4 separate regions of the Homo sapiens genome follow, and all the other regions are linked to region 1. Evidence: fine-mapped QTL for protein levels in blood plasma. A gene starts in region 1. Each other region holds a variant in brackets. All regions are shown on one strand. Distances are between the middles of the regions. Region 1 holds the start of PTGFRN (prostaglandin F2 receptor inhibitor). Region 2 overlaps PTGFRN (prostaglandin F2 receptor inhibitor). Region 3 overlaps PTGFRN (prostaglandin F2 receptor inhibitor). Region 4 overlaps PTGFRN (prostaglandin F2 receptor inhibitor).

Region 1 (7,585 bases):
TGGTTTCCATGTCAGGTATTTCATTCAGTCCTGTGGTTAGCTATTTTATTCTCTGTCTACTCACACCCACCAGCCGCTCAGGGAGATGCTGTGTCTTTGTCATTTGTCTGGGACTCCCAGTATTGAACACACAGTTGCACACAGAGTGGCCACTCAAGAAATGCCACATTGAGTGGATGGGCAAGACAGGTCAGACATAGGCAATGGATGTGAAACCTGCTCTATGTGGCTGGGTGGGTTCTGGTGTGATCATGGTAGGTAGGCTTAGGAAGGCTTCATGGAGAAAGTGAGTTTCAAGGGAAAAAGGAAATATTAATACGCAGGCAAGAGGTGAGAAGTAGAAGGGGCCAGAAGGTTTAATATAGTCTACATAAAGGAGAGCAAACAGGTTAGTTGGAACGAAGTGTCTGAGCCAGAGAAGACCAGAGGGGAGGGACACACAAGGGGCAACATCTCCTTGGAGGAAACTCATAAGGACACAGTGAGAACAGGTGGGAGCCCCAAAAATGATCATTTAGGAAAAGGATGAGCTTAAAAGGGAGGCTGGAGGAAATAATCAACCAGGAAGACACCAACTGTGTGGGAAACAATCAGGACCTGGGCTAAGACAGTAGCCGTAGAAACAGGAAGGAAAGAAAGAAGCTGGAGTCTGTGGTACGGGGAGAGCCAAGAATTGAGAGACTACGTGAATATGGAGGTCAAAAAGAGCAGCGATACCACGATTATACCCAGGTTACACCCCAGGAGGAAAGATGATCTTGTTTATCAACATATTACATTTCAGGGATCAGTACAGTGCCAGAGCAGTGTAACACAGCGAGACCTTCCCAGAGGTCAGGCTGAAGCCACACCGAGTGAGATTCTGTGACAGCAGAGTTATCAGGAGGGTCATCAATGGTTCAGAGAACTGTTAGGTGAAAAGGTACTGGCTGGTGACACCACAGAAATTCCCTGTGTAATTCATAGGAGGCATCCAGCCAGGACAGGATATGCTGGAGTACAATCAAGATTTCCCCAAGCTGTGCTTTCCCCACTTCTATTTTGTTTTTGTCAGTCTCTCTTTGCCCCCTCCCCTCTTCTCCCTTCATTATTACTCAAGGGCATTGTTTTCAAAGTTCTACCTCATCCCACCCTCATAACTGGTACCCAGGTTGTTCAGAGAACTGCACAGCTCTAGGGGGAGTTATTCACACAGACTACAAAGTGAACAGCAGCTCCCGAAGTTGTACAGTGCACCATCTGTGCAAACCTAGGCCATGGCCCTGCTTGACCCAGACACATAAAGTCAATTAATGTGTGTGGACTATAACAGCAGTGCGCCACTAACATACAACTTACAAGGGTCCCAGAGTGAAAAGTAAAGATTAAAAGCACTACCACCGGGTGTGGTGGAGCATGCCTGTAATTCCAGCACTTCAGGAGACTGAGGTGGGAGAATGACTTGAGCCCAGGAGTTTGAGGCTTCAGTGAGCTGTGGTTGTGCCATTGCACTCCAGACTGGGTGAAAGACTGAGGCTTTGTTTCAAAAATAAAAATAAAGCACTAGGATCAGGGACTATAGAAAAGATGCCATAAAACTAAGTGGAAGATCTGGAAGCTTTCTGCACATGGGCTGAAGCTGAAGCAATGTGGCTGGACGAGCTCTCTGAGGGAGTCAGTTCAGAAAATCCCTTCAAGGTGAAGGAAGAAAACACAGCAGCCAGCAAGGCTGGTTCATCAGCAGCAGGAGTCATGGGGGTTACAGCAGTGTGGGCCCCGGTGTCCCCAGCAGGGGAGTAGCTATAGAAGGCCTCCTCTGGAACCCTCTGACCATAAGTGCAGAGTAATCATTTGCCCTGTGTGCAGCTGGGACCTGAATGGCACGGACACCGCACATCATGCGCTCTGTGAAAGACTCAGAGCCGCCTTCTCTAGGGGCTTGGAAGAGAACCCCAGGCCAGGTCACAGGAATCATCTTGTCCTGGTTGACACTGACAACAAGGATCCAAGAATATCAAAACATTTAAGAGTCGGCCCTGGGGTACCATGGTGGGCACTTAATAAACATATTTCCGTGGCTGGCTAGGATCACCATGTGGATCTACGTGAAGATGGTGTCTGTGTATGGAGTGAATGGAAAATGGAGAGGGAAAAAACCCACAAAAGATTCCTTGGGTGGGGGGAGGGCGCTGGGCCAAAACCTCACGGGGCACCCAGGGTTTCCGGAGGGTGGAAGACGAGGGGATAGTAAGGGAGGGAAAGTAACAGGTAGAAAAAGTTGGAGAAGCCAGGCTTTTAGGTCTTTGTGTATAAATACGCAGCTAGGCAGCTTCAAGAAAAGCTAAAAGAAAAGACTGAGGCAGAAGATCTAGCCACGACGAAAATGACGGCAGGACTCGCCCGCCGATTTCCATTGTAACGCTCCGGGCCACCCTGTGACCTTCGTGGAAGGAAGTTGGAGGATTCTCTCGCTTCCCTGGAAAGGCAACTCCGCGCGGGTTGGGTGAAGAGCGACCCGGCCGGCGGCGGCTATGGCGGGGCATATCAAAGGCTCACATTTCCGCTCTCGAGCCGAGGACCCGGGCCGGGACCGCAGCACCTTCCGGGCCGGGAGTTCAAGGTGAGCCGGGCTCCCGGCGGCCAACAGGTAGGGAGACCTGGGGGAAAGACGGCCCCGGGCCACTCCCCCCGGCACATGTTGGGGGCGAGGCTCGGCCTGGCGGAGCGGCCACTTGCACCCCGCGCGCGGGGCCCGAGCGGATTCGCGCCAGGCTCCGGGCGGCCCCGCGGCCGCTCCCCGCCGGGCCGAACAACCCGCGCACCCCGGCCGGGTTTCCCGGGAGCAGCCCGGGCACCCTCGGCGCCCCAGGCCGCGCGCTGCAGCCGCGCCCCGCCGAGCCCTCCAGGGCCTCGCCAGTCCCCGTGTGCCCCGCTGAGCCCCGCGCACACTCACCCAACGACAGGAGCGCCAGCAGCAGCGGCCTCGAGGCCAGGCGCCCCATGCTCGCCCGGCGGGAGCGACTCTCCCCCTCCTCCTCCTTCCCCGCCGCCTCTCCTCCTCCTCCTCTTCCAGCTCCGGCTGCTCCAGAGTCGGCGCTCCTCCGCCTGGGCCGCGCGCCTGCTCCGCTCTCCTCGCGAGCCGATAAATCCCAGCGCTGGGGCGTACGTGCGCCCCTGGCTCCGCTCGCTCCCTCCCGCCTCCTTCCCTCCCTCCTCCAGCCGGCCGGGCCCGGGAGCCGGCCCCGCCGATCCGAGTGTGCAGCCCCGACCGCTTCCCGAAAGCAGAAGGGAAGAACCGCAGCGCCCGCCCGCGCCTCCCATCCGGCGCTTTGCCAGCAACAAACACAAACTTTCCCAAGCCCCTCCCCGCTCCAGGTAACGGAGGAAGAGCCGGGGCCACCCGCTTAAAGGCGAGGAGGCGTCGGAGCCCACCCTGCCATCCCCTCTGGGCCCCCACCCCACGAGAAACTTTCCTCCGACCTTTAAAAGTTGGCCTGGGAAAGACTCGTCTGGAAATCCCATCGCTTTAGCCCTATCCCGGGACACCCCGCGTTCCATCACGCTGGAGTCACCCACGCGTGTCTAGTCTATCCTCAGCCAACTCCCCGCTCGTTCGGCCTCTCGTCCTGAGCTAAACACCCCACCAACCAGCCGCTTGGCCTATGCCAAAAATTATGCAGATAGGAGCGAAGGAGCTGAAAGGACTTTTAAAGGCCACGGATTCCAACCTCTACCATACAGAGGCCTTAAGTGTTTCGGTGAGGTGCCCAAGGATTCACAGGGAAGGGGCAAAATCAGAACCCCGCTCTCCTGACTCTGCCCACTCCCCGGTGGCTAGGGTGGGCCTGTCTCCTTCCTTACCCAGCTCCCTCCCTCTCCTCGGCGCCTGTGGCACTGATTAGAACAGCACCCCACAAAGACACCCATTTAAAAAACAAACAAAACCCAAGTGTATTAATAGCTATAGTACTTCATATAGAATGTACTCTTAAGACTTAATATTTATTGCTCTAAGTGGACACCACTGATTGCCAATAAAGACTCATTTTTCCCCCTACAATAGAGTTTTGTGCTTTTGATTTGAATACAAAAGGCCCGACTTGGTTGGGAGAAATGGAGCATTCCTTGCTTGAAACTTAGCAAGCATGATTCAAACACGCAAGGAGCAGCACTGGTGCCCACTGCCCGTCACTGGGCTTTCATTCACATGCAAAACGGATCGCAGATGCTTATGCGGAAACTGCCCACACTGGGGAAGAACACTGCTTTTACTCTCATGCATCCGTCTTTCAACCAACAAATGTTTCTTATTTCCCCACTATCAAATGTGTGATTAGCCAGGTATCTTTGGAAAGAGACTTAAAAATTCATTCCTGGTGGTGCAACGTTATTGTACTTAATGCCACTGAATGGTACACTTAGAAATGTTTAAAATTGCCAGGCCTGGTAACTGGTACTTGTAATGCTAGCTACTCAGAAGGCTGAGGTTGGGGGGGCAGGGGGAGGCGGGGGGCAGGGATGGTGTTGCTTGAGGCCAGGAGTTTTTATTTGTTTTGTCTTCTTTCTTTCTTTCATTTTTGAGACAGGGTCTCAAAATGAGGATCTGTCACCCAGGCCGGAGTGCAGTGGTGCGATCAGGGATCACTGCTGCCTTGACCTCCCAGGCTCAAGCAATCCTCCCACCTCCACCTCTCAAGTAGCTGGAACCACAGATGTGTGCCACCACACTCTCGCTAATTGTTTTTATTTTTTGTAGACACTGGAGTCTCCCTATGTTGGCCAGGCGGGTCTCGAGCTCCTGGGCTCAAGCGATTCTCCCGCCTCGGCCTCCCCAAAGACTGGGATTACAGGTCTGAGCCACTGGGCTGGCACTTTTTCTTCTTTTTCTTTTTTCTTTCTTTTTTTTTTTTATTTGAGGCTAGAAGTTTGAGACCACTCGGGCAACATTGTGAGACACCGTCTCTAAAAAAAAATTTTTAAGGTTAAAATGGTAAATTTTGTGCTATGTACATTTTACACAATAATTTTTTTAAAATTTATTTCTGCCGCCAAGCCTTTCCTGGTTCTGTTCATACACACTGTAATTCCTTTCTCTTCCCCATCCCAATTCTTCCCTAGAATCTCGCAGGGAAGTTTCCCAATTTCATTCAATCAACCTTGAATTCAAGCCTAATGTTAGGCCTTGGAAGGTAGTGGAGCTTCAGAGAAATGTGAGGCCTGGCACCTTCAGAAGCTCAGATTTCAGCTCATCCTCCATCTTTCCTTTTCTTAACCACCCAGAACGCTTAATGTTTGAACCACACATTGTGGCACTTGGTCACATTCAGTTTAGCAAAATGTATACACTACCCCCATCTCTGTCTAATAATGCATGGGCCTAAGAGGCTGTCACATTTTCACCTTGTATCCCACCTTATGGCAGAGTAGATGTTTTAAAAATTCTTTTGTTTAATAAACAATGTGTGTCAGGGACTGTGCCTAGCACATGGTAGGTCCCAATGTATATTTATAGAGTGAATTAATGGCAGACACTGGGCTAGATCCTGGGGGTACAGGGATGAAGCAGACAGTTCTTGCCCTTGAGGAGTCGACATTTTGTGCATTGTGATTGCATATGCAAGGTAGAGTTGTGACACCACAAGGGAGCGGCCAGTCCAGGAGGAGGCTGTCAGAGAAAGCTTCACAGAGGGGATGACTATGCAACGAGTCTTGAAAAATTGGTAGGTCTTTAGCTGTGGAGTGTAAGGATAAGCTTACAATAGATGTTGTGTATTTAATATGATAGAGATTCTTCTCACCTCACCCACCCCCAGGTATTATTAAATTAATGGTGTATCTTACAATCATGGAAATAACAGTGGTTAACCATTGAAATGATGAGAATAAATAAAATTGTCTAGGTAAGGCAGGTAGAATGAGGACTGAAGTGGGTAGCCTGCTGGTGGCTGGCAGTTAAATGTCATGGGAGTTAACCAAAGAGCCACTTTTGTAGCAAAAAATAAGCATAAATTAATAAGTCTAGACTGTTGGTTATAACCACCACACCCTTTGCACCTTCCTGACTACCAATGGATAAAGGAAGAAACACAGCAGACTGGCACAATTTGTTAATTCATGACTCTGGAATCTGATGATGCTTTTACTATGAAAGATATTTATTTACCAGAGTGAGTAACCTTCTATACAGGTAAGGCTTTTGCCCCAACCAGTTGTTCTCCTATCTTAGTCTATAGGCTTGCCTGGGGCAGGAAGACTCACTCTCCAGCAATTCTAATTGATTCACGCCCACCCCCAAGGAGAGTACCGACATGGGTTTCTTTTCTCCAATCATAGTGCCCCCAAGGGGCACTGGTCACAGCAGTCCGACATTATGGTCTTTTGGTCACACATGTCTTTCTGCAGGTGATACCCCTAAAACCTCACAAGAGTCCTCATACTGTTACGCCAAACAAGTTTTCCCTGCTGAGATCAGGCAAAAACATCATCATGTTATTTAACTTTGTGAATGAAAATGTTAAAAGGTTCCCAGTGAATGAAATTGCTGATTGTTCTAAGACTCACCTAGACTTGGAGTTGTTGGCCCTGCCACCTCTGGCAGCCTGTACACGCACACAGTCTCCAAATGACCCTGACCCCTACCTACTTCAGCAGGGGCTCAGGGGAAGGAGTATATTCCATGGCACCGTTTCATTCCACTAATCATTTTCACTCACAGTCTTCCTTGTTCTGTGTCCAGATGTATATTTTCCCAGTTAAAGTTAAACAGAGATTACTAAACAAAAAGAAATTTAGGATTATATTATAGAATTAGAAAATGAAATTAAAAGTTAGAAAGGGAGGGGTGGGAAGAGGAGGCCTTTATTTCCCCACGAGTGAGAGTCCTGCAATACTGGTGAGATTAGTGGGGAAGCTGTAGAATGCTCATGTGACAAGTTTGAAAACAGCAAGGGACCTCATCTGTTTGGTATGGGCTAAGCAGGGTCCTGCCTGAGGGCTGGTCCTGCTCGTCACCACCCAACTATCAATTCTCCCCATCTTTTCTTCAGCCCTAAAAGACTGAAGTGGGACATGGTGGAGAAAGTGTTCTTAAATGACTTAGAACTGTTCCAGATTCCACCTCCACCAGGCCAAAAGTGCCTCCCTGGGAAGCTACCCCACATAGCATCACGCCTGCAGGAACACTGGGGTGGAGAAGTGTGAGGAGAAAATAAGGAATTGGATGGAGGTGAGCCTTTGGCAATAAAAGCTCTCCCCAAGACTGAGGCTATTTCCTATGTTACGAGCAGACAGGGCCCTTGCCCTGGAGGGGCTTATCATCTAATTTAATGCATGAAAAACCTGGAATACAGTGAAGGACGGGGAGGAGATGGAAACCACAAGAGCAAAGGAATTGAAAGAAAGGTAAATGGATAAGAGAGACACAAGCCATTATGTGTTGTATTCTGCAAATATGCCATCATCTGGGCTGAAAGTATCTCTTAAATGAATGGAGACAGCAGTCCCTTGTGCAAAAGAGGGGCTAACACATTAGAAATAGTTGCAGGCACTATGGATGTTGGAGTAAGTTCTTTACCTAAGGTCATGGCTGCCAAGTAGGATGGTGCCC
Region 2 (7,585 bases), 37 kb before region 1:
TTACAAGACATAACAAAAATTAGGAAAAGTTAGTGTACATTTTGCCCAGAGGGCAAACATTTAGGGAAAAAAGAGGTAGGGGAAAAGGAGCTTAGTATAAAGTAAGAGGACATGCCAAAGATCTCCACATATACGGCAGGTTGTTATAAAATGGGTGGCAAGGTGCTCAACACTTGAGAGCTACTCTGCTCCTCCACTGGGGAAATTACACCTGGGGTGAGAGCGTCCACAAAACAAGCCTATAGAAGCAGGCGGGCCCTTTAGTTGTAAGTGGTATATACAGATATATTGTGGGATTCCAGGGCGTGACGTGAAAAAAAAAATGCTTTCTAATAACTGAAGGAATTATCTTTCTGCATTGGGCTTTGGAAAAGCACCAGCTCCTGCCAGGGAGCACCTAGGAGTCTAAGAGAAACAAAGGAAGAATGGCAGTGTTCTCCCTCCAACAAAGATTCATTTCAAAGAGCCATTCAGCAGTGCCCTGACCCTGCAAATGTCGACAACAAAAGGAAACTATATACTCTCAAATGAGGGTATTGAGACAACTGAGGCCACATTATCTAAACATTTCCCTTGTCTGCCAGATTCTATTTCATCCCCAGCTTGGGATCTATCTGGGCCAAAGTATGCATGAACCAATAGAAATAATGTCGAAGTCATGCAAAGCGCAGAGCCTCCTGAGATAACTCCTTCAGATAACTCCGAGGAGGGGTTAAGCTGAAGAGGTTAAGAGTCATTCTCCAAACCACTCACCTAGCCAGGTCACACCCACACCAGCTGGGGAAGACACGGCCTCTGCCACTTTGTGCCAGCTCCTGTTGTGTCCGGGTGCCCACAGGGACACGTGGCAGTAATAGTAGCCAGAGTTTTCTTTGCTAACATCCCGAACCAGTAAATGGTAGGAGCGTGCATCCACATGACTCAAAGCAACATGAGGCGAGCTGTGCACCAGGGAATCACGGTCAAGCCGCGCCAACACGCGGGAGCCAGGTAGGGTGCTGTCAGGCATCCTGCTGAAGGACCACGTCACCTCGGGCCGGACGTCATCGGCTCGGTCTGTTGTGATGTTACAGGTCAGGTCCAGTTCCTTTCCTTCAGCCACAGACACATTCTTGGGCACAGCTGCTCGCAGAACTTGAAAATTAAAAACAAATACATCTAGGTAATCTGATTATGTTTGCCCCTTCTATTCTCCACCCTCTTTAAAGCATCTCCTTTTAAGTTCTTATTTACAGCATTAAAGTTAGAAGGCTTTGTACAGTTGTAAGTGCTTGAGAAATATTTAATGAATAAATTAACAGAACATACCACATTTCTTCTTATTTTATAAAAACAACAATAGCCGCAAACATTTACATATATCTGCTATATATGCCAGGCAGTGTTCTGAGTGCTTTACATATAATAATCCTCAAAACAACCCTAAGAGGCCTAATTTTACTGATGAGGAAATTGAAGCACAGAGAAGTTAAGTAACTTGCCCAAGGTCACACAGCTGATAGGTGGCAGAGATGGAATCCAAATCCAGGCTATCTGCCTTTAGAAACTCTGCTCTTCACTGTTATGCTATCTTTTGATAAGCAGTCTATTGAAGACTGTAAAACTAAAATTATACATTCTCCATGTGCATGATGAAACTTGGGTGATTTTACAGAAAAGGAAGACTTGCTTCTGACTGGTACATATTGTTAGCTGGGGGCTAGGCAATAAGGCAGCAGAAGTGAGGGTGAAACTGTCTAAGGGATAAAAGGGAAAAATCCTAAACAGAAGGGCCAGGAAAGTGAAACCAGACAATTTTCCTTGAGTCAAGTCTTCAAAATGTAATGTACTGAGAGTATAATTTATTTCTTAGACATTCCCACATAAAAGCCAATCATAAAACATATTCTAAAACTAAAACACGATGATTTTTGGATTATCTGCACTACTGTCCTTTCTCATTAGTGTGGATAATTAAAAGTAGACTATATTTAGATGAAGCACTGAAGTATTTGGTGTCACAGACTCAAGGCAGATCTAGTTCCAGCATTCCCCTGTCAAAGCTTTCACATGGAAACATTTTATTCTATTCAGAAGATTTTAAAAGAGCATCTGTAATCTGAGTAGAAAAACATCAACTTGTGAAATGTCCGGGAACAATTACTTAGATGACAAGTACCAAGCACTTCCCAGGGGATTCAAGCAGAGGCACAGCCCTGGCCTTCTAGCAAGTCGCTGGCATCAACGGCATGGCGCTGGCCCCAGTAAGCTCAGGGACCCAATTCAGAAAAGACCAACTCCAAAGCCCGTGCTCCTTGGCGTAAATTACTTTCATATGAATATGTCCAAAGCCTGACAATATTTCAAACAAATATTTCAAGTCAAGTTCAAGATCCAGCTAGACAGAAGACAGAAAATAAGGTGGGCACAGTATTAGAAAAGGCAATTTAAAAGTTCAATTTCTCCTTCCACCTAGTCTCCTAATTCTTTCTCTCGATCATCTCTTTAAAAGGGCCAAAAGTAGCCTGAGGGTATCATTTGTGAGGACTAAGTATGGAAACTGCTGCCCTGAGCCAGGCTCTGCAGTTTGAACCATTCTACAGTCAAAGCTTGTGGCCAGAAACCCTGGAATCCTGCTGGAGTCACCTCTGCCAGGACTTCAGCTACTGGAAGTAAAAGACGACTCAGGAGGGAGTCGGGTCAGTGA[C/A]GAAGTACTTAACAAGCAGCTGTGGACTGTATGGATGGAGAAAACAGAGTCTCAGGTTCAGAAAATATTGGCAGGGATGTCTCTTCAGCTGTGTAGTTCACTTTGTAATTTTCTCTGTGCAAGTGGCTCAGTATCTTGTCACATCACTAACCAGAGGTCCCACACATTCTGGATTTGGGAGTTTACTGCTGAGAGACAGGATGGAGTAGGCTAAAGGGAAAAAAAGGACCAGTTCTAAGTATTTGTAATGAAAGAAGGGACCTCAGGCAAAGCCTGTGGTGGGGCAGGTTCTCTGTCCCTGAATATAACTAAATCCATAAATCAGACAAAGTTTGCAGCAACCAGACCACTCCCATGACAGGGAGGAGGGGCTGGGGAGGAGGCTCCCTGCCACATGGGTAGCACAGCTTCACTCTGCGCCATTTATCATAACAATGTGATAAGAATATATAAGCAGCCAGCTATGGATAGTGCAGGTGTGGACAAGAAGAGAAGGACCATCAGCCTAGTGTGACAGTTCTTAGCCTGGGATCCACAAAGAGAATTTAGAGTCTGTGAACTTGGATGGGAAAAAAACTCCATCTTTATTTTTATTAATCTGTACCTGAAATATAGCATCTCCTCCCACTGTGAAAGTAAGCAACAAACCAGTGTAGTATTACCTGTGTCTGGAACTACCCCAAATAGAAATCACATTACAGTTGCTGCAGATATCCTGAAATATCATGTATACTCATTACTATTCAGAAAGTACAGTTGTTAAGCCTGCCACTATCTTATTATCAATGCATTAATAAAGCAGCATATTACTACAAAATCAATTTGCTTTACAAGTATTTTGATAACGATTTCTATATAATTATTTTCCTTTGTCATCTTGTGTACTGTATTTTATGAATTAAAACATGTTAATTCTGAGAAAAGGTCTGTAGGTTTCAAAAGGCTGTCGAAAAGTCTCATGGCACAAAAAGATTATGAACCCTGTCTCATCTGAGAGCCAGATATTACCTGCCTAATAAGTTCAGTGTTCAAGTCTCTTAGCTAGATATTATAGGTCTCATGGTGTGTTTGAAACAAAAAATGTCTTTACAATTCAAATTCTTCCAAAAAAGCGTAAACTTTCTACACAGCTGAAACTCTTAAGAGTTGTTTGATGCAAGTTTAATATCTAGAGGTTTCTTAGGGCAGATTGCAGAGCGATCACTTCTGATCAGGAAGGTAACCTAAGTCCATCTGGAAAGCGATTTCTGCAGCCAGTGGAGCCCAGACTGACCAGTAATGAGCAGCTCCTCTCCTCAATGGCCATAGTCACTCAAGAACCTCAGACCTGCTTTTCCACCACCCACTTTTCCAAATCCAGGCTCTGTGCTGTGGTGTAAGTGCAGAGTAAAGAGCTCAGGACAATGCACCTTCAGAGACAAAATATTCCCCCTGCGTGTTGTTTCCTGCTTTCCTTCCCATCTGAGTAACAGAGCCACCACATATTCACATTCATGCTCAGGAAATGAGTGCAACAACCAAGGTCTTCCCAGTTTAAAAAACAGAAGGCAGCAGCAACAGCAGCAAAGTACTCTGAGATCTGAAGATGTCAGACTTGCAGAAAACCAAGGACATCCACTCATCCTGAGCAATGACATTGCCCTTCCTTGGTCTCTTTACACTGTCTCTGTGAAGCCTAAAGCTCCACAGGGCCTGGGAACAAGCCTCAAATACCTCTGACCCAAGGGCCCAGAACAGAGCTGAGCACACAGTAGGTCCTCCATTGATGCTGGCTGGACAATGAGTCAACAAGACCATGTTTTCCTTTTATTTTTATGTGTTTTCTAAAATGCATGTTGTATTTTCTTAATTACTTCTATAATTGCAGTAGAGGGTTTGAAAAAAAAAAAAAAAAAGCTGATTCACAGACGACAGGACAAAGGGCTTCTTGTACAGACCCCAGGACTGGATGCTCCTGTGGTCTGTATGATACAGGAAAGCAAGAAGCGGCCCTGCCCTAGAGAGCTCCTCCCCCTTCCAGGAAAAGCACATCTGAGGGGACCGAAAGGCAGGCCTAGAGGATACAAGTTAGATGAAAGGTTTTGGGATGAGCCAGGCACACACTCCAACAGCTGCAGAGAAAGGCACGTCAAAGGACTCAGGAAACATCAAACCCGATAAAGTTTAGGGGCAGGGTGTGGCACCTTCACCCCAAAGCTCCACTGAACACCAAGTCCTACCTAATCTGGCTGAGGGACCACAGCACCTCAACTCTGAGTGAAAGATCTGCCTTCGTGTTATGTGCAGGCTGTGGCTTTCCATGGACATGAATTTAGATAAAAGCAGCTGCGAAGCAAAACGACAGGCATCCTCAGCACAAAACAAATGTAACCCCGCCCACCTCCAACCTCTCAACACCCTACTCCCTTCACCCCTAAAAATAAGGCCTCACATGGGAAGCAGAAACAGTTCTTGTCAGAAGGCCATGGGGCTCCCTGGCCCGGTTCTTTGTATCACTATCATTAGTCACAAAATAACATCACCTATAACGCATCGTTTCCAGCTCACCTGATGGCTGGATCACCACGGTGGCAACTTCCACGGCCTTTTCTTGGATTTCCTGCCAGTTGCCCTGCTCGGCGATCCACTCGCTGACGATACACCTGTAGGAGCCCTGGTCGGCAGACAGAGCCCGGGACACTGAGAGGCGGTAGGCGTCGCTGCCCACGGTGTCGAGGCGCACGTCCCCACTGTGGTAGCGCTGCTCGTACCCCAGGCCCGGGTGGAACCTGCCCTCGTGGGTCAGGGCGAGGACGCTCCGCCTGGCCGGGCCGCGGTGCACCTCCCACAGCAGCGCCAGGTGCGTGTGCAGCGGCGAGGCGGAGGCGGCGGTGCAGCGCAGCTCGAAGGGCTCCCCCTCCCGCAGGCTCAGGCTCGGCGGGGGCCGCGCGCTGGGGCCCACGTGCAGGGAGTCGGCCAGCACTGCGGAGAGAGAAAGCTAGGTCAGTAGCCCGTCCACACCGACCCCAGCCGGCAAGGGCCAGCCCACCGCTGCAACCACAGACAATTTCCTCCTCCCTTTCCCATTCCAAGACCCGGATGGGCACGTTTTCCCAACTGGATTCATCTGTAATCTCAATTGACTTTCTGACTTGAAAAAGAAAAATAAAGGTACCAAAAAAACCCCATGCTAGAAGTGGGTGGTAAAAACTCCCTGTGGGAGTCGTGCCTTGGGGATGTGATGTGCTTCTGCTACCCTTAAGGCAAGTTACTTTACCCCTCTGTGCCTCAGTTTCCTAAAAGGAGGATGACAACTGGACCTTCGTCATAGAGTTGACATGAGAGTTAAGTTAAACAGGGTAAGTTCCCAGGACCGTGCCTGGCACTCAGCTGTCATGATAAATCATTGGGTATGACTGTCAAACATTTCTTTGCTTAGGACCAGGGCTAGGCTAGGGAGCCCGCAGAATCTGCAGATAAGGTGACCTTCTAGACTTAAAGTAGCAAGATCCACAGGGGAGAAAGGATGGCATGAGCTGCCTGTGGCTTGCAGCCTGGGGAATGCCCAAGAATGTCTAGGGTGAACACAGCATATCCACATGATAGGAACAGGCCCAGACACTTCTACAGAGTCTAGAAAAAGGGGACGGCGATCAAGGAAGTATGGGTGGTGTACTCAGGAAAAAAGCAGTAGATGGATACTGCTATTCTGGTAACCAGAAAGGGGGCCACTACCAAGCAGCAGGGAAAAATCTATCAGGCTTATCCATGAGCTGGCTAAGAGGACCCTCCAACACCACTATTCATCATCTGTTTTTTTTTCCCCCCAATTCCATATTCAGAAACTAATTCAGTGTCCTTGAGAAGGGGCTATTCTAGATAACATTTAAAAGCTGCTACATTTTTAGGAGGACACATCCTGAAGACCCATCTCTACTGCAAAATAAATATAATGACCTTCTAGTATATGTATCAGTCTGTGAGTCTGGCTAATATGACTCAGTTCTCAAGGCCAGCTCATCTCTCAGAGCACAGATGAATAGTTTCAAGAGCCATGAAGCTGAAGGCCGGGCAGATCCTGGACCACACATGGCAACCATCAGAGGCTCCACCTGGGCAGCAGTCAGTCTCTCTCATGGTCATCCATTGCTTTCCTCACCCAAGAAAGGCCTCCTCTTGTGTCTCCTGCCTTCCAAAGACAGCAGAAGAGGCTGAAAGATACTGGAGGAAGTGGGGTGCGGGTGGGGGAATTCTCCCCTTACTCTCCCTCCCACTCAAGAGGAGACTCCAAGGGGATACAAGGGGGCATCTGGCTTAATGAAAAAGTGGCATGTGGCAATATTTAGCTCCAATACAAGAGTGTCTTTTTCTAAATAACATGTTCTGAATTTTCTATAGGAATAAAGAGGTAGATGGGGTGTTTCATTACCTCCTTAATGGACAGTTTTATCCCCTGATGAGTCTAGTGAGGGAACAGTCTCTGAGCTATGGCAGGGTTCTACAAGTCATGAGGGAATGAATGCCTCAATCAACCCTCGCTTTTTATATCATCATGTGCATTTTCTACTTTCTGATAATTACATACATTCTGACCCAGACATAAATCCTTTTGGGAACAAGGCAGGGTACAAATAAATGCATAATTAAGTAACAATAACAACAATTATAATGTTTCTATTTTCTTAGCCCCAAATTAAAATGGTTTGTTCTTGCTCGTTTACTAATTAGCTGTGTGATTTTAGGAAAGTAATTAACCTATGCTCTTCCATTTCCTCATGTATAAATTAGGGAAATATTCTGCCCTATTTTGATTGGGTTCAGAGAATTGAATGTGTGAGTAAATCTAAAAGGACTTGGAAAATGAAACAAACAAACAAAACCCCCAAAACAAATCCCAAAACATTCCAGGTACATAAGGTG
Region 3 (7,585 bases), 46 kb before region 1:
TATTGACCTTGGGTAGATTACTCAGATCTCTGGTGCCTCACCCATACAAATGGGGATGACAGTAACTAGCTCATAATGTTATTGTGAGGGTTAAGAGTTAAAATATACTGTACTTAAAATGCCTAGACTGGTGCCTGGTGTGTGTGTGTATGCAGGTACACACATATTCATATACACATACACGTGTATATATTTGTGATCATTATTCACAGTTCCCATTTCTGAGGGGAGAGCTTTAAAGAAGTTAGTGACTTGGCCACACAGTTCAAAAGTGGCAGATGGGAACGGAGCCCTGTCTTCTACCACCTTTCAAGTGCATCCTTAGCTCACAGATGAACCAAACCTACTGTCTTCTAAACTTCATATTTTCTAAGTTCCACTGACTGACACATGATTTTTAGGAACGCTGAGTGCAGTGCTGCCATGACACTAAGTTACTGCCACAGGGAATGTGACCCAGAAGACAGCTCCCTGCAGGCCCTCGCCTCAGCCTGACTGACCAGTGTGATCCAAAACACCATGAAGTTGCCTGTGGGGACTCCTCTTCTGTCTCCTCACAGGTGACAGACCCTTTGATCCTTAATGGTTTACTTCCACCCCCGTGCAGATTCTTTCAGAGTGGCACCTTTTCAAAGGCTGTCAAAATTATGATGAAAGATGGTAGATGTTCATTGCAGCATTATTCACAAGGGCCAAGATATGGAATCAACCCGTGTCCATCAACAGATGAATGGATTAAAAAAATATGGTATATATACACAATAGACTACTATTCAGCCATAAAAAAAAAAGAACAAAATCCTGCCATTTGCGACAACACAGATGAACCTGGAGGACAGTGTTAAGTGAAATAAGCCAGGCACAGAAAGACAAATACCACATAATGTCACTCGCATGTGGGAGGTCAAAAAGCTGAGCTCATAGAAACAGAGAGTAAAGTGGTGATTACCAGAGGCTGGGGGATGGAGAGGGGAGAATGCTAGGCAAAGGACGCAAAATTTCAGTTAGACTGGAGGAATAAGTTCCAGAAATCTATTGTACAACATTGTGACTATAGTTAATAACCATGTATTGTATACTTGGAAACTGCTAAGAGAACAGATCTTCGACATTCTCAGCACAAAAAATTATAGGTATGTGAGGTAATGGATATGTTAATTAGCTTGATTTAGCCATTCAACAATGTATACATATTTCAAAACACCATGTGGTACACCATAAACATATATAATTTTAATCTGTCAATTAAAAAAACATGTTGGAGTGACTTGACTGACCTATTAGTGGTCAGATCACAGAACACACAGAAAAGGTGGTCAAAACTAGCTCCTGTGCCAATCACCTGGGCAGCTCTCTCTCTCCTCCCACTCCCTGGCCTGCTCACACCCCAAAGCTCACTCCCCCAGACATGAAAACCCAGCTCTTCCTTAGCCTCCAGACCCAAACACTGGCCTGAGCTGAGGTCTGGGCATTCTAACTGAGCATCCATGGCGTCTTTACTACAGCACGCTCACAACCGAATTCACCTCACTCCACATCTGCCTCTGCAAACACACAAACACAAACACACACACACACACACACACACAGCGAGCCAGCGAGAGAGAGAGAGAAAGAGAGAGAGAGAGAGAGAGAGTTAAAACCTTGTTCCAAACACAGCCAGCCCCACCTCCAAACTTTTCAACCACTCCTGCTACCACATTCCCGCCACTCATTCTCAAGGTCACTCAGTGTCAAAGGTGTGCCATCTTCAACGCTCTCCCTTCCCTTCCACCTCTCCACTCTGAGGGTTCCTAAGTCTCGCACATTCTACCTCCTCAGTGTCTCTTCCATTTCTTTGTTCTCAGGCCTGATGCAGAGTAGACACTTTATGAATATTTGCAAATAGAAGTGAAAACCTCATGAAGAACACCTTCACCCTGGCCCTCACTCCCTCTAGCCAAGACTATAATAACAACCTCCCATTGCCACTTGACATGACTGACATGACTGCTTGGGCATCTGCTCCATAAACCTCCCATGGCTTCTTCCCTCACCTACTGAGTTAAGAAAATGCTCCCCAGCCTGGCATTCGAGGCCCTCCACTGCGTGCACCCAGCCGCAGCACCCACTGCCTTCTCAACTCCACTCAGATGGCACCTCTCACCATTCCCTAGCTACTCCTATGCTCCGCCTTCCTTCCTGCTGCTCTGTCTGCCTCAGCACCTGGGCCACCTGCTCGATAAGTAGTTTAAATAATGACTGAAGAGATTCTTTCATTCTACTCCATTCTCCACCCTGAAATCAATCTGTTTGAATCCTACATACCCAAACACAGCGGAATGAGAGTACGGGGGACTTGCACAATGTGTGCATCTAGCTATAGGAATTCCAGCTTGGAAGGAAAGAAAAATCTCTTCATTGACCTCAACAGTTGGTCTCTTCATTTTCTCTTAAAACTAACCTTAGGCCTCAGAAAAGGAGGCCTCAGTTTTAATGCAAAGGCAAACAAAAATAAGTGGATTCTTGGCTTGTGAACTTACGAGGGGCAGGTTCATTTGAGCTATCCACCAGCCTTGTAGCTCAACTTTAGACTTACACTCCTGGAGAAGATATGATTCCACCATGTCAGAATGGTAGGAGTAGGAGCAGGTTCTGATTTCGTTTTTGTTTTGGTGCATGGACAGAGATTGTCCTTTAACATTGTTTTACAATTTTAAAAATGGTTTGCAGAGATTGTGCCCTTCTTCAAGGCCTGTCATGCACATACCTCTTCTGTGTATCCTCTCCTACTCAACGGAGAATGCCTCCTTTGAACTCACATGTCACACTCCTATTTCGTATTCAACAAATCCCACCACCTGCCAAGCTCCCTGCTCTCTAAGGGTTTTATGTGAATCCTGCCTTGAACTTTGGTTATTCGTATGTATGTCTTATGGGCTTTCCACAGGACTCTTCCCAGGGCCAGGGACTGCCACCTTGATTCTCTGTACGTGCTGTGCATGCAGTGCCTTGTACATAAAAAATACTAACATACTGGCTGAATTGAACTAAATTTAATATTTTGCATTAAAATGCTCATTTTGGGCACAGGCATTTCACCACTGATTACTGCTACATTCTGCTTGATCTCATCAAGAAATCAGCTAAGAATGCAATGGTGGTTATGTTTAAAAACTGCTTATCATTAAAGATGCATACTAAAGTGTTTAACAGTAAAATGACATGATGTCTGGGATATACTTTATACTCTTCTAGAAGAAAAAAGTGTGTGTTTTTGTGTGTGTGTGTCTGTGTGTGTCTGGTGTCTGGAATAGGGAAGAGAGATAAAATAAGATCAGCAAAATATTGATTATTGTTGAAGTTGGTGGTTATTTCTTCAACTGTGAATATTTGTAAATTTCTATTTTTAAAAGTTAAAAACAAACAACAACACACACTGTAAGCCCTCTCACAGAATACTGAGGCCAGTCCAAGTGCAGCATCACTAACGTTCTGAGAAGCAGGGATCTGCTCCCTAATCTGGATGCCAGGAAGGTGTCTGCTCATGTCCACACCATCTCCCAAGCTATGCACAGACTCCAAAAGAGTGACCCTCCCCTAAAGAAAGGCTTTAAAAATAATGGCTCATTAGACTCCTTTGTCACAACTTTCAAAACAATAAAAAGCCTTCAGAATCACTGGCTAATTTGTAAAAACAAGTATTGTGGGCCTACTATGTGCAGGAGACTGATCTAGAGATTTTCATACAAAATACCTCCTTTTACTCTCATGACAATTTTGTAAGGAAGGTATTATTATCCCCATTTTACAATAATAATGCTAAACAACGAGCATTTATCAAGGGCTTTCCATATGCCAGGCACCACACTATATACTTTCCTTGCATTTTCAATTAATCTCCATAACAACCTTGTAAGATTGGTACTATTTTCATGTACATTTCCAAATGAAAAACAAACAAAAAGCAAAAGTTAGAGGAGCTAAGTTAGAAGACTAAGGCCTTGCAGAGTGTGTGAGAGCAGAATTATAGGACAGGCTTTGGCTCCGTGGCCTGGCTCCTACTATGATCAAATTGTGCAACCTCCTTACACACCAAGGTTATTAATCTTTCTCAAAGCCTGCTACGTCCCGGAAGACAAGAGTGATGACAACAGCTGAAGCACTAATCCTGAACTGTGTACAATAGGACCATGTTCTAATACCCCCTCTGAAACTTAGTTAACTTGGCACAGCTAATTACATGAATGGCTGCATGCACCAGTTAGAAGAAACAGAAGGAGTACTCAGCCTGTGCTGATGACAGGGTTTTATTATTTTGAATTGGGTAGGTACTTTAGAGGCAGCTGAGCATATTGACCAATCGTCAAAATGACACCACGATCACCATTTGTATAACAATTAAATATTCACCGACATTTAATGAGTGAAGGCTACAAATAAGGAGCTATTGTTGTTGGGAGGGGGTGGGAGGGGAGACTCATTACCTTACTGTGGCAGAACCATTATGAGGATGGATGGAGCACTAGCCATTTCAGAGCAATAAAAATAACATCATTTGAATGCAACATCTATGCCCTGCACCCAAAGAAATACTCATGAAGGGCCAGGCACGGTGGCTCACACCTGTAATCCCAGCACTTTGGGAGGCCGAGACGGGCGGATCACCTGAAGTCAGGAGTTTGAGACCAGCCTGGCCAACGTGGCGAAACCCTATCTCTACTAAAAATACAAAAAAAAATTAGCCGGGCATGGTGGCAGGCGCCCTGTAGTCCCAGCTACTTGGGAGGCTAGGGCAGGAGAATCGCTTGAATCTGGGAGGCGGAGGTTGCAGTGAGCCAAGACTGCACCACTGCACTCCAGCCTGGGCGACAGAGCGAGACTCCATCTCAAAAAAAAAAAAAAAAA[G/AG]AAATATTCATGAAGTTTTTCTTTCTTCATCCTCATTTGCTCCTCCCAGAGAAGGAAAAGTGAATTACTAGCTTTGAGAGGGATGAAAAGGGCTGGGTGTGGTCAGCTCAACCCCTTTCTCTAGCTCCTCTTAGGAGCAGCTGCTTTTAGGACACACATGTTCCTAATTCCTCTATGCTGGGCTCCTCCATGCCCTAAGACAAACTCTTAGGTCTTAATTGGTTAAGAACTTGGTGGGGAAGACCCTCAAACACTAACAAATCATCATCGCCACCACCAAGAAAATGCAGTGAGCATTTAAGAGCCAGGCACTGTACTAAGCACTTTATATGCATTATCATATTAAACCAGGAAACCAAAACTTACTTGGAAATGTTCATCGACACACCCGAGGCAACATACCTAGAAGGAGGACTAACACATGTCTCCTGACTCCAACACTTGGCCACGTGCACTTCTGCCTTCCAGAATAATCTTGGACAGACAGCTGATATTAGTTATCCTTAAAAAACCTACAGGTCTAAATCTTATCGCCTATAAATGGCCCAGAACTCTAAAGTTTCTACCAAGTACTTAGCAGATTAACAGCTCTTTTAAATAAAATAATTACCTTCCTTGCTGGCACACTGCTGAAGAGGGGCCAGTCCTTCAGTGGGGAAGAATGCAAATCAGGTTCTTAAGACTGAACAGCAGAACTCAACTCTGCCTCCTCCAGCTCTTATATCCAAAGCCTGTGGAACCCCTTCCAATTAACGCCACAGAAGTCTGGTACTTCGGGCAGAGTTCAACCATGAACTGATTAGTATCCAACTCTTGCCAAAGGCTCATTTAAGACATCTGATAGCAGAAGGAGATGGCTTAATGTGCAGATTAACTAGCCATTCTGCTAGGTTCTCTGTTTTAGACATATACTAAATTGGATCAACACAAAGCATCATTTGTCCCCCATAGTAATTGAGCTTCTTACAGAAACCCTTCACACACTTAAGATTTATGTCCTCAGCTTTTATAGAGGGTGGATATAAGAAACATCCATTTAAACCATCATTTAGGGCCTTTTGTAAAAGAACAGTTGAAAGCCCTGTCTATTATCTTTTCCAATGCCCCAAAATGAAAAAGCACATGATAAATTCAATGCCAAGAGAAAGTTTGTCTTGCTGAAAGAGTTAATGTTTTCCTTCCTCAGAGGAGAACTGTATAATCACATCTTTTTTTTTGTCTCAACTCTTCAGAACTTCAGAGGCAAATTCAGTGCTCAAATATAATAACTAATTCATACCAACCACCTTGCAATATCTATTCTTCTTTTACCCTTTTGATCTTGATTTTATGTCTCCTGCTTTAAACTGTACCTCATTTTGCAAGCCAACTTAAATCTTTTTTTTCTTTCCCTTTAAAGTAGGACATACATTCTAAGTAAAAGAGGTTTTTTCTCAACATCTAAAACATTATCATGATCCTCTCAGTGGCTGCAAGTGCTCTGGACTTGCCAGGCCCATTCATGTCATTGCCCCGTCTTCCTGCTTAGCACAGTGGAACTCTAGAAGACCCCAATCAGCTTCAATCCCCTCACCTAGCTCAGTACACAAGCCCCAAGCAAATGAAGACAAGAACTACCCAGCTCTTAGGACTATGCTCTGGAGTTTCAGGAATGAAGCTGAGTCCCAAGGCCAAAAATATTTTCACATTGAACATTTAATGCATATAAGGTCCTTAGTCCAGTGCCTGGCACACAGTAGATGCTCAATAAATGGTAATTATTCATTTTAATCTGTCAAGTGGCAAAACTGAGTTTTGCATTTTACCTGTGTAGCAAACCAACTCTCTCGAAAACTTTTCTGTGACAACATTCCAGAGTTACATGACCTAAGACCACCTATATCAACAGAGTGCTTGTCAGGTTGTCTGTCTATCTTTTTTGGTCACTTCTCGGTTACCTTATATTGGTCCCAAGTTGTATGTGGTATGGTATCCGTACGCATATACATGCACATTACATATCTAGAGACAACCATGGAGTGTCAGGCCAGGCTCACTGGCTTCTGGACAGAGTCCAGCGGGGAAGTCTTTGAGAAGGGTCTGCTGCTATGCTCATGCCCTACCCGCTCCTGACAAGTGTCCAAGCAGCTGTAATGGTCTGAGTCATAGGCACAGGGAAGGAGGAGAAGTCTTAAGAGGAAGAAAAAAAAAAGAATGCAATTGTTTTTCATACTACTCGCTCTTTCGTTAGGTTTACTCAGGGGCAAATATCTCTGAATATCCTAGGAGTTGAACATTACTGCTTTCTTAGCAATTCTAGCTTTCCTATGCACATATTTTAACAAAATCCATGTGTGGGTACTGGTTTATTTACCCGTTCAGCTAATATTTATTGAGTGCTTATTACATGCAAAGCAGCAGGGAAGGTGCAGGTTCTGTATCTGTTAGCATCAGTCAGGAAAAGCACACTGATGACTTTCACAATGGTAGTAGCACTCCAAAGGAAAACAAATGACGGGATCCTTTGGATAGTAACTGAGCCTTTTCCACAATTTAGTCTCTTTATTTCTTTTCACTCTCTGGAGAACACAGCTACCAACAAATCCCTTCCAGTTAAAGGAGCCCATTCCTCCTAGAGCTCCGCTCCTGTTGTCTGACAGTCCCTGCATCTCCCCCCGGGTATGCCGGGATCAATGCACACGTACTTCAAAGAAGCCTC
Region 4 (7,585 bases), 55 kb before region 1:
AAATTGTACACTCTATATATAGTAAATTTTATAGTATGTGAGTTATATCTCAATAAAGCTGCTATTAAAAACAAACAGATACACAATAAAGGAGGCCTATGCTTTCTCCAAATCTAAGGGCTTAAATCAATATTTACCCTTTAATTTAAAGGTCAAGAGATCTTAGAAGATTATTTCACTATGGTATATATTATATACCATAAAAGGCTATAATAATAGAAAATAATATTAATAGAAAAACTTTATTAGAGTCTAGCTTACCTTTAATATAAATGCTAATCATTTAATTCAACAAATATCTTGCATTCATTGTATGATTCAATTGACACCTGAATTTTTACAGATAAGTATTAATTTATACATTCAGAAATTTCTAACTAAAACCCAGGAACCCAGGGCAGAGTTAGTGAAAACACTTAGTATTAAACTCACAAATGATAATCCTTTGCATTCATATTCTAAATAAGATTGGGGTTTAAATACTTTTAAATCATCTTCCTACTGAAACACACACATACACAGACAGAGGATGTTAAAGATCTTCCACTTTGGCAAGTCATTTAACACCTTGGGAGGCTCAATTCCCTCCTCTCTTTCTTTATACTCCACTATGTTCCCTAAAGTATTTGAAGTAGCTGAGCTTCAGCTCATTTTCTTAAAATGAAAGCAGAAATGAAAACATACATTCATCAAAAATTTGTACATGAATGTCCACAGCAGCATTATTTGTAACAGTCAAGAACTGGAAACACCCAAATGTCCATCAACTGATGAATGGATAAACACAATGTGGGATATCCATACGATGGAATCTTATTCAGTCATAAAAATGAACAAAGCACTGATACATGCTACAATATGGATGACCCTTGAAAACATTTTGCTCCAAAAAAGAAGCCAGATAGAAAGGCCACATATTATATTCCATTTATGTGAAATGTCCATAATAGGCAAAATGTATAGAGACAGAAAGTAGATCATGGTTGCTGCAGAATGGGAGGTGGGGAATGGAGTGTGAATGGAGGGTATTGGCTAAGGGGTCCAGGTTTCTTTTGGGGTCATGAAAATGTTCTAAAACTGGTCGTGGTGATGATCACACAACTTTGTGAATATATGAAAAGCCACTGAATTACACACTTTAAACAGGTACATTGTATGGCATATGAATTGCATCTTAACAAAGCTGTTTTAAAAAATGAGGGCATCTGATCAAAACCCTAGGGTCTCTTCTAGCTCCACCTATGATTCAACAGGGCTCACTGCTCACCTGAGGTTTGGAAGTCTATCTCAATAGGATTGGAGAGACTGGTTGCTGCTTCTCGCCAAAGGCTGCCCCTGACAGGAGACCAGGCTGTCACCATGCAGCGGTACAGCCCTGCGTCTGAGACCTGAGTCTGGTACATTCGATAGCGGAACTCATCCTCCTGCACTTTTTCTAAAACAACGCCATCCACCCGTGATGCATCTGTCCAATTCTCCAGCTTCACCACAGAATCCTGGTCCAGAGAGATGATGTACTTCGTTTCATTGGGACTGGAGAGGTCGCCGACAGGCTTCTCAGCCATGATGAGAACAGAGTAGCGTGGCGACTTAATATTCTTGGAAGATACTTTGCAAGTCATCTCAAATGTATTTCCGGCAGCAAAGAAAGGCTTTGGCTGCCTCGCCTTCACCACAAGCACGGAATCTGGAATGAATGACCAGAAGGATGTGATTTCCAACAAGATCAGTTAAAATAAAAATGCAACTAAAAGCAAAATAACCAAGAAACAGAAATGTATTTGCAAATTGCCACACAAAAGCACCTACGAAAATCTGGAAACTCAGAAAGAAAATCATGTGTATCTATAAGCAGGCTAAAACCACCCCATTGAAAGTAATAGTCTGAAATGAATCAGTGGGTGTCAGGAGAGAGGAAATTATGGTGAGAACTGGTTTTAAGGATTTTTAAGTCCTTAAGAAGTTTCACCAGGAAGAATCTGGGAACCCGCTATTGGTGCTCCAAAAGATGCAAGGCAGAGGACACTCCTATAAAGGTGGGAAAGACATGGCTGAACACAACACCATGACCTCCAAGCCAGGCTCCTGGCCATACCATTTGCCTCTCCTCCCCAGGGGTCTGCTAAGTGCAGGGGAAGTGCCCCTAGCTAAGCTAGCCTGCAGGGAGGAATGCAGCAAGGGAGAAATGAATTCTCCCTGTTTAATCATATGATAGTGACATTACAGAACAGATGTATTGCTAAAATGACTGTAGCGTATGTATTTGCAGATCTAATAATTTCCACTTGCTTTACACTTTAATTTCAGAAATGCTGTTTAAACATTTTGAGAGGTGTCTATGGCTACGCTAACTTTAGGTTTAAGTGGATTACTCCTTGTGTCTCTGTCAAAACAACAATGCCTATGCATGTACACATTAGAATTCATCTATTATAGTAGCACAACGTCAGGCACTTGGAAGGTGCTTAAATATTTGTTGAGTGGATGAATAAATGAATTAGATACATTCTTTTTATCCTTTAATAAGATGATTAATCCTATAATCCATCCAGTTACAAGATGAGATTTTTACGTTAGATTTTTTGGAACACTTGTTCCACCAAACCGATTAGCAGAACATGTATATTAAGAACTCTCTCCAGAACCACTGACTGCTGAGCTTCTACTGAGCCACCACATTCTTTCTTGATTTTCCTGTGAGTTCGGTCATTCATTCATCAATTTAAACATATATTTATTGACAGCCTTCCATACTGCAGGTACTGGAAACATAACGGTGAACAAATAAATACAAAAATCCCTCCCTTTATATGCCAGTGAAGGAAGACAAATGAAATAAACAAATAAAATATATGGTATGGTTATATGGTGATAAATGTTTAAGAGATAATAAGCAGCCAAGGAAGAGAAAAAGCGTGGATTTGTATTTGGAAGGAAGGTGTGTGTGCCACAACCGTAAATAGAGTGATCAGGGACATCCTCACTGAGGAGGCAACATTTTAAAAAGAACCTGAGCTGGGTGTAGTGGCTCATTCCTGTAATCTCACTGATTAGAGAGGCTGAGGCGAGAGGATTGCATGAGGCCAGGAGTTTGGGATCAACCTGGACAACATAGCAAAACCCCGTGCCTCTAAAAATAAAATTAAATAATTAGCCAGGCACAGAGCATGTGCCTATAGTCCCAGCTACTTGAGAGGCTTGAGTCCAGGAGTTTGAGGCGACAACGAGTTATGATGGTGCCACTGCACTCCAGCCTGGGTGAGAGAGCCTGGGTGAGAGAGCAAGACTGTGATTCTAAAAAAATAAAATTAAAATTAAAAATAAAATAAATAAAAAGGACCTGAAGGAGGTGAGGGAGCAAGTCCTATCTATCTTGGGAAGAGCATTCTAGACTGATGGAACAGCAGGCAGAAAGCTACAAGGCCGGAGCACACTTGGTGTATTTGAGGAGCCTGGAAGGGCAGAGTGGCTGGATGGAGTGGGTGCTGGGGAGGGTGCTAGGTGAGGCCAGAAGGTAATGTGACCAGTTGGTACAGAACATCTAAGACCACTTAGAGGACTCTGGGTTTTGCTCTGAGTGAGATGGGGAGGCTTTGAAAGTTTAGAGTGAAGGAGTTTCAGGACCTGACTTATATTTAACAGGATTGTTCCAGCTGCTGTGTGCTAGGGCAGAGCAAGGAGACGATCTGGGAGGCCAGGGATGTAATCCAGGCAAGGGTGGCGCCATAAATGGCAGAGTGTGAAAAGTAGCCAGATTCTAAGTCAATTTTAACAACGAGCAGTCAAGGATGAAGGTTTTGGGCTGAGCCACTAGAAC[A/G]ATGGTGCTGGAGAAAGCTGGGAGAAGAGAGCTGGCAGATGTGATGGGAAGCGTCCTTTTGAACAGAAGCTTGAGATGCCTGTTAGTCAAGTAGTGTCAAGGAGGCAATGTAATATTGAGTCTGGAGTTCTGGAAAGAGGCCTGGGGTAGACATGTAAATCTGGAGTCACTGGTTTCTAGATGGTATTTAAATTGATGAGATTAGAGACATCACCAAGAAGGTGAGGTTAAATAGAAAAGAAGTCCAAGTCCAAGGACTATGTCCAAAGACTATGTCCTGAGGTAGTCTAATGTTTCCGGGTCCAAAAAATGAACAGAAGCCAGAAAAGGAGGCTGAGAAATGGCTAATAAAGTTGGAAGAAAGCCCTGAGAAGGCAGTGTCCCACAAGCCAAGGGAAAAACCAAAGCATTCCCAGGAGGAGGGAATCACCTGCGTTAAATTCTGCTAAGTCAAAGAAAATAACTGACAATAGGATTTTCCAATATGATGATTACTGGCCATCTTACCACAAGCAGCTGAGGGGAAAGCCTGATTTGAGTAGGTACCAGAGAGAATGGAAGGAGAAAAACCAGACACACTGAGTATATATACGTCAAATATTGTTGTTATAAAAGGAAAAAGTAATAAGTAGACAAATGGGTGTGGGAAACAGAAAGACGGATGAAGAAGGAAGATCAAGACTAGCATAAAAAAGGGGGGGCGCCCGGCACGGTGGCTCATGCCTGTAATCCTAGCACTTCGGGCGACTAAGGCAGGAGGATCGTTTGAGGTCAGGAGTTCAAGACCAGCCTGGACAACACAGTGAGACCCTGTCTCTACCAAAAAAAAATAGCCAGGCATGATGATAGAGGCCTATAGTGCCTCTAGTTCCAACTACTTGGGAGGCTGAGGTGGGAGGATAACTTTAACCTACCTAGGAGGCTGAAGCTACAATAAGCCATTATCATGCCACTGCATGTCAGCCTGGGTAACAGAGCAAGACCCTGTCTCAAAAAAAAAAAAAAATTAGCTGAATGTGGTGGTGAGCACCCGCAGTCCCAACCGCTCGGGAGGCTAAGGTGGAAGGATCACTGGAGCCCAGGAGGTCAAGGCTGCAGTGAGCTACAATCACACCACTGTACTCCAGCCTGGGCAACAGAGTGAGACACTGTCTCTAAAAACAAAACAAAACTAAAACAACAAAAAATACCACAACCCTCACTCCCCACCCCCTCTTAAAAAACCCAAGGAAACCTGGATCTAACAGCACATTGACAGACCAATAGGAAAGGTCCAGAAGGGAGAGAATTACCAAAGACATAAGAGAGAGCAGCCATGGTCTAAGTAGTGAGAGGGGCTGGCCTCTGCCAGGACATATGCCACGTGACCTGGTCTCAGCCCTGGGGCAGCGTGAATGGGAATTCTCCTGATTATTTCTACTTTTAGGAGAATAGGAAGCAGGGCCAACAGCTGAGAGAGAAGCTGTGGGAGGAGGTTTGCAGAGACAGAAGGTGGTATGCAGTAATCACTTAGGAGAGTGGGGAAATAAACAGACTAAGGAAATGCAGAATAATTCCCACGCAGTGCCAAGAGCCCACTTGTCACAAGTGACCACTACTTTAAAGGGAGACCAGTCAACATGTTTGAATGTTTCTCTCCAACCACATTAGCTCTGTGGGCACAGGTAGGGAGGCTGCAGAAAGCTGCCTTTGAACTGGGTTGTGGTTTGGCCACAGTCTAATGCAAACCGAGAGGGGAAGGAAGCTAGGGGTGTATGCAAGGGAGTGATTAAAACTGACTGGGAATTTAGGCTAGGTAATAGTAGGTGACCACATAACTTACCCCTACCTCCCAGCCTTAGCTCTGAGAATGAAAGAAGGTGCTATCATAATGTACACCATTCCAGGTGTACGCTGGACTACAAATGGGCACCCTAGTGAGAGAGACGTGAAGACACAATGGCAGTGAAGGACGATGTCAGGTGGTAGGATTAACAGATTGTTGGCCCCAGTAAGGTTGGGGGATTGTTGCTGGAGTACTAGACGGAGCGGTACAGAAAGACAGGAGATATGTTTAGAGAACAGGATGCTTGAAATTGAGACTGTGGAGGGGTTTCAGTTATCAGAAGGGAGACGGTCTAATGTAGCATATAAGCATGTAAGTGTAGGACCAAATAGGATAGAGGACATGATGACTACAGAGAGGAGGACAAGCAACTAAGAATGACAGGATTAACTGTATTAGAGTTCGCCACCTTGGCTGCACATGAAAATCACTGTGGGAGCATTTAAAAATTCCAGTGCCCAGAATGCATATACTTCAGACCAACTAAAATAGAATTTCTGGTGGAACCCGCCTGATCTCGTCTGATCTTGGAAGCTAAGCAGGGTCAGGCCTGGTTAGTATCTGGATGGGAGAATTTCTGGTGGGACAAAGCACCAGCATTTTTTTTAAGTTCCTAGGGGGCTTCCAATTGTGACCCAGTGCTCTACACAGATACTGAAGTTAGCAAGATGGGAGCAGTGTCAGACAGAGTGGCCGTGAAACAAACGCTAACATCTTCAAAGAATGAACGGAGGACCTAGGAGGCAACAGGCAATAGTAACAAGAAGAGGTGGTATGGTGTGATGATGACACGAGATTCGAAGCTAGATATTTTTAGGAGTGAGCGAAAACGACCTGGAAGCTGCAGGGAGGATCAAGAAGGGCACCTGCCCCACACCTCTAGGCCCAGTTATGAGAAGTGTGGGAAGAAAATGGGCATCACTTAGTTGGGCTCTGGGGGAAACTGTCCTCAGAGAGGTAACGGTTTCTCCAGGGGAAAGAGTGTCCTCAGAGTCACCATGTTTAATGCAAGAAAGAGAAAAGAAACATTCAGAGGTAAAGTTCAGGAAACAAGAGACTTGGCTGATTGACAGTGAGTTGGAGAGGGACCTCTCTGGGGCTTGGGGACAGAGGAGGGGTGATAGTGAGTCCAAAGAGCATGTGCAACGGGTCGCATGGCGATCAATGTCCAGGACACACATTCCTAGTGTAAGTGATAACCTGCAGAGGGTGACTGTGCATCAACACACAGCGGCACGACTTAAGCAAAGACAAAACAAAAATGAATAACAAGAAAAAAGTTCCTACCTTCTAATGCCCAAAATATGTTAACAGGCTTGGAGAAGACATCCTTGCTTTTCACCCAGCTGTTGTTCCGCTGTTTGGTCCAGGCAGACACAACACAGTAATAATTGCCTCTGTCTTCCTCTGTAGTCCTTTGGATCCGGAAATTGAACGTGTCTGTATGTTCCTTAGAAAAAATAAAGTCTCCATCCTGGGCCCGCTGCTTGCTCCTCTCTCCATATTTTAGCGTCCAGTCCCCGTCCATGACTGCAAGCAGCTCGCTGGTCACCACATTGTCGCTGCGCCGGTTCATCCTGTAGTACCACGAAACCGTGAATCGGACATTCGCCTCCCCACTCTTCGTGTCCACCACCCGGCATGCCAGCTCTGTGGGGTCATCCGCAAACCCGGGGACCTTGGAAGCATTCAGGTACACCTGGTAGTCTGGTTCTGAACGAGAGACAGAAAGGCCAGGATAGGAAAATAATTAGAGTAACATGGCAAGAATTAACAAAAGGAATGAGACAAGGACTGCTCTTGTTTTAACAATTAAATGCTTCTCCTGCCGGACTAGAGAGACAGAAATCAGTCGTTGCATTGGATAGGATCCTAGAACAGTGTTTTTGCAAAACTTGTAAAACACCGCTTCTCATACCTCCCACCCCAAGAAAACCTCCCAA

Evidence for each region. PIP is the posterior inclusion probability: the model's chance that the variant is causal. Protein levels are from the aptamer-based SomaScan assay of Sun 2018.
Region 2: its variant is fine-mapped to the plasma level of the PTGFRN protein (Sun 2018, PIP 0.95).
Region 3: its variant is fine-mapped to the plasma level of the PTGFRN protein (Sun 2018, PIP 0.95).
Region 4: its variant is fine-mapped to the plasma level of the PTGFRN protein (Sun 2018, PIP 0.95).

What each region holds. Positions count from the first base shown.
Region 1 is chr1:116,905,600-116,913,184 of GRCh38, reverse strand. It overlaps PTGFRN (prostaglandin F2 receptor inhibitor), which reads right to left and starts at 3,269. Exons shown (of 9, transcript NM_020440.4): 1 at 2,933-3,269. The coding sequence starts at 2,981.
Region 2 is chr1:116,942,741-116,950,325 of GRCh38, reverse strand. PTGFRN (prostaglandin F2 receptor inhibitor) reads right to left here. Exons shown (of 9, transcript NM_020440.4): 3 at 5,234-5,647; 4 at 754-1,134. Among named protein-coding and RNA genes, the nearest start is that of PTGFRN, 37 kb to the right of the region's middle. RefSeq lists a silencer at 2,893-3,093. The variant C/A (reference allele first, on the strand shown) is at 2,687.
Region 3 is chr1:116,951,156-116,958,740 of GRCh38, reverse strand. The region is part of intron 4 of PTGFRN (prostaglandin F2 receptor inhibitor); the gene reads right to left. Among named protein-coding and RNA genes, the nearest start is that of PTGFRN, 45 kb to the right of the region's middle. The variant G/AG (reference allele first, on the strand shown) is at 4,888.
Region 4 is chr1:116,961,013-116,968,597 of GRCh38, reverse strand. It overlaps PTGFRN (prostaglandin F2 receptor inhibitor), which reads right to left. Exons shown (of 9, transcript NM_020440.4): 5 at 6,930-7,355; 6 at 1,268-1,687. It also overlaps the pseudogene RNA5SP55. Among named protein-coding and RNA genes, the nearest start is that of CD101, 37 kb to the left of the region's middle. The variant A/G (reference allele first, on the strand shown) is at 3,818.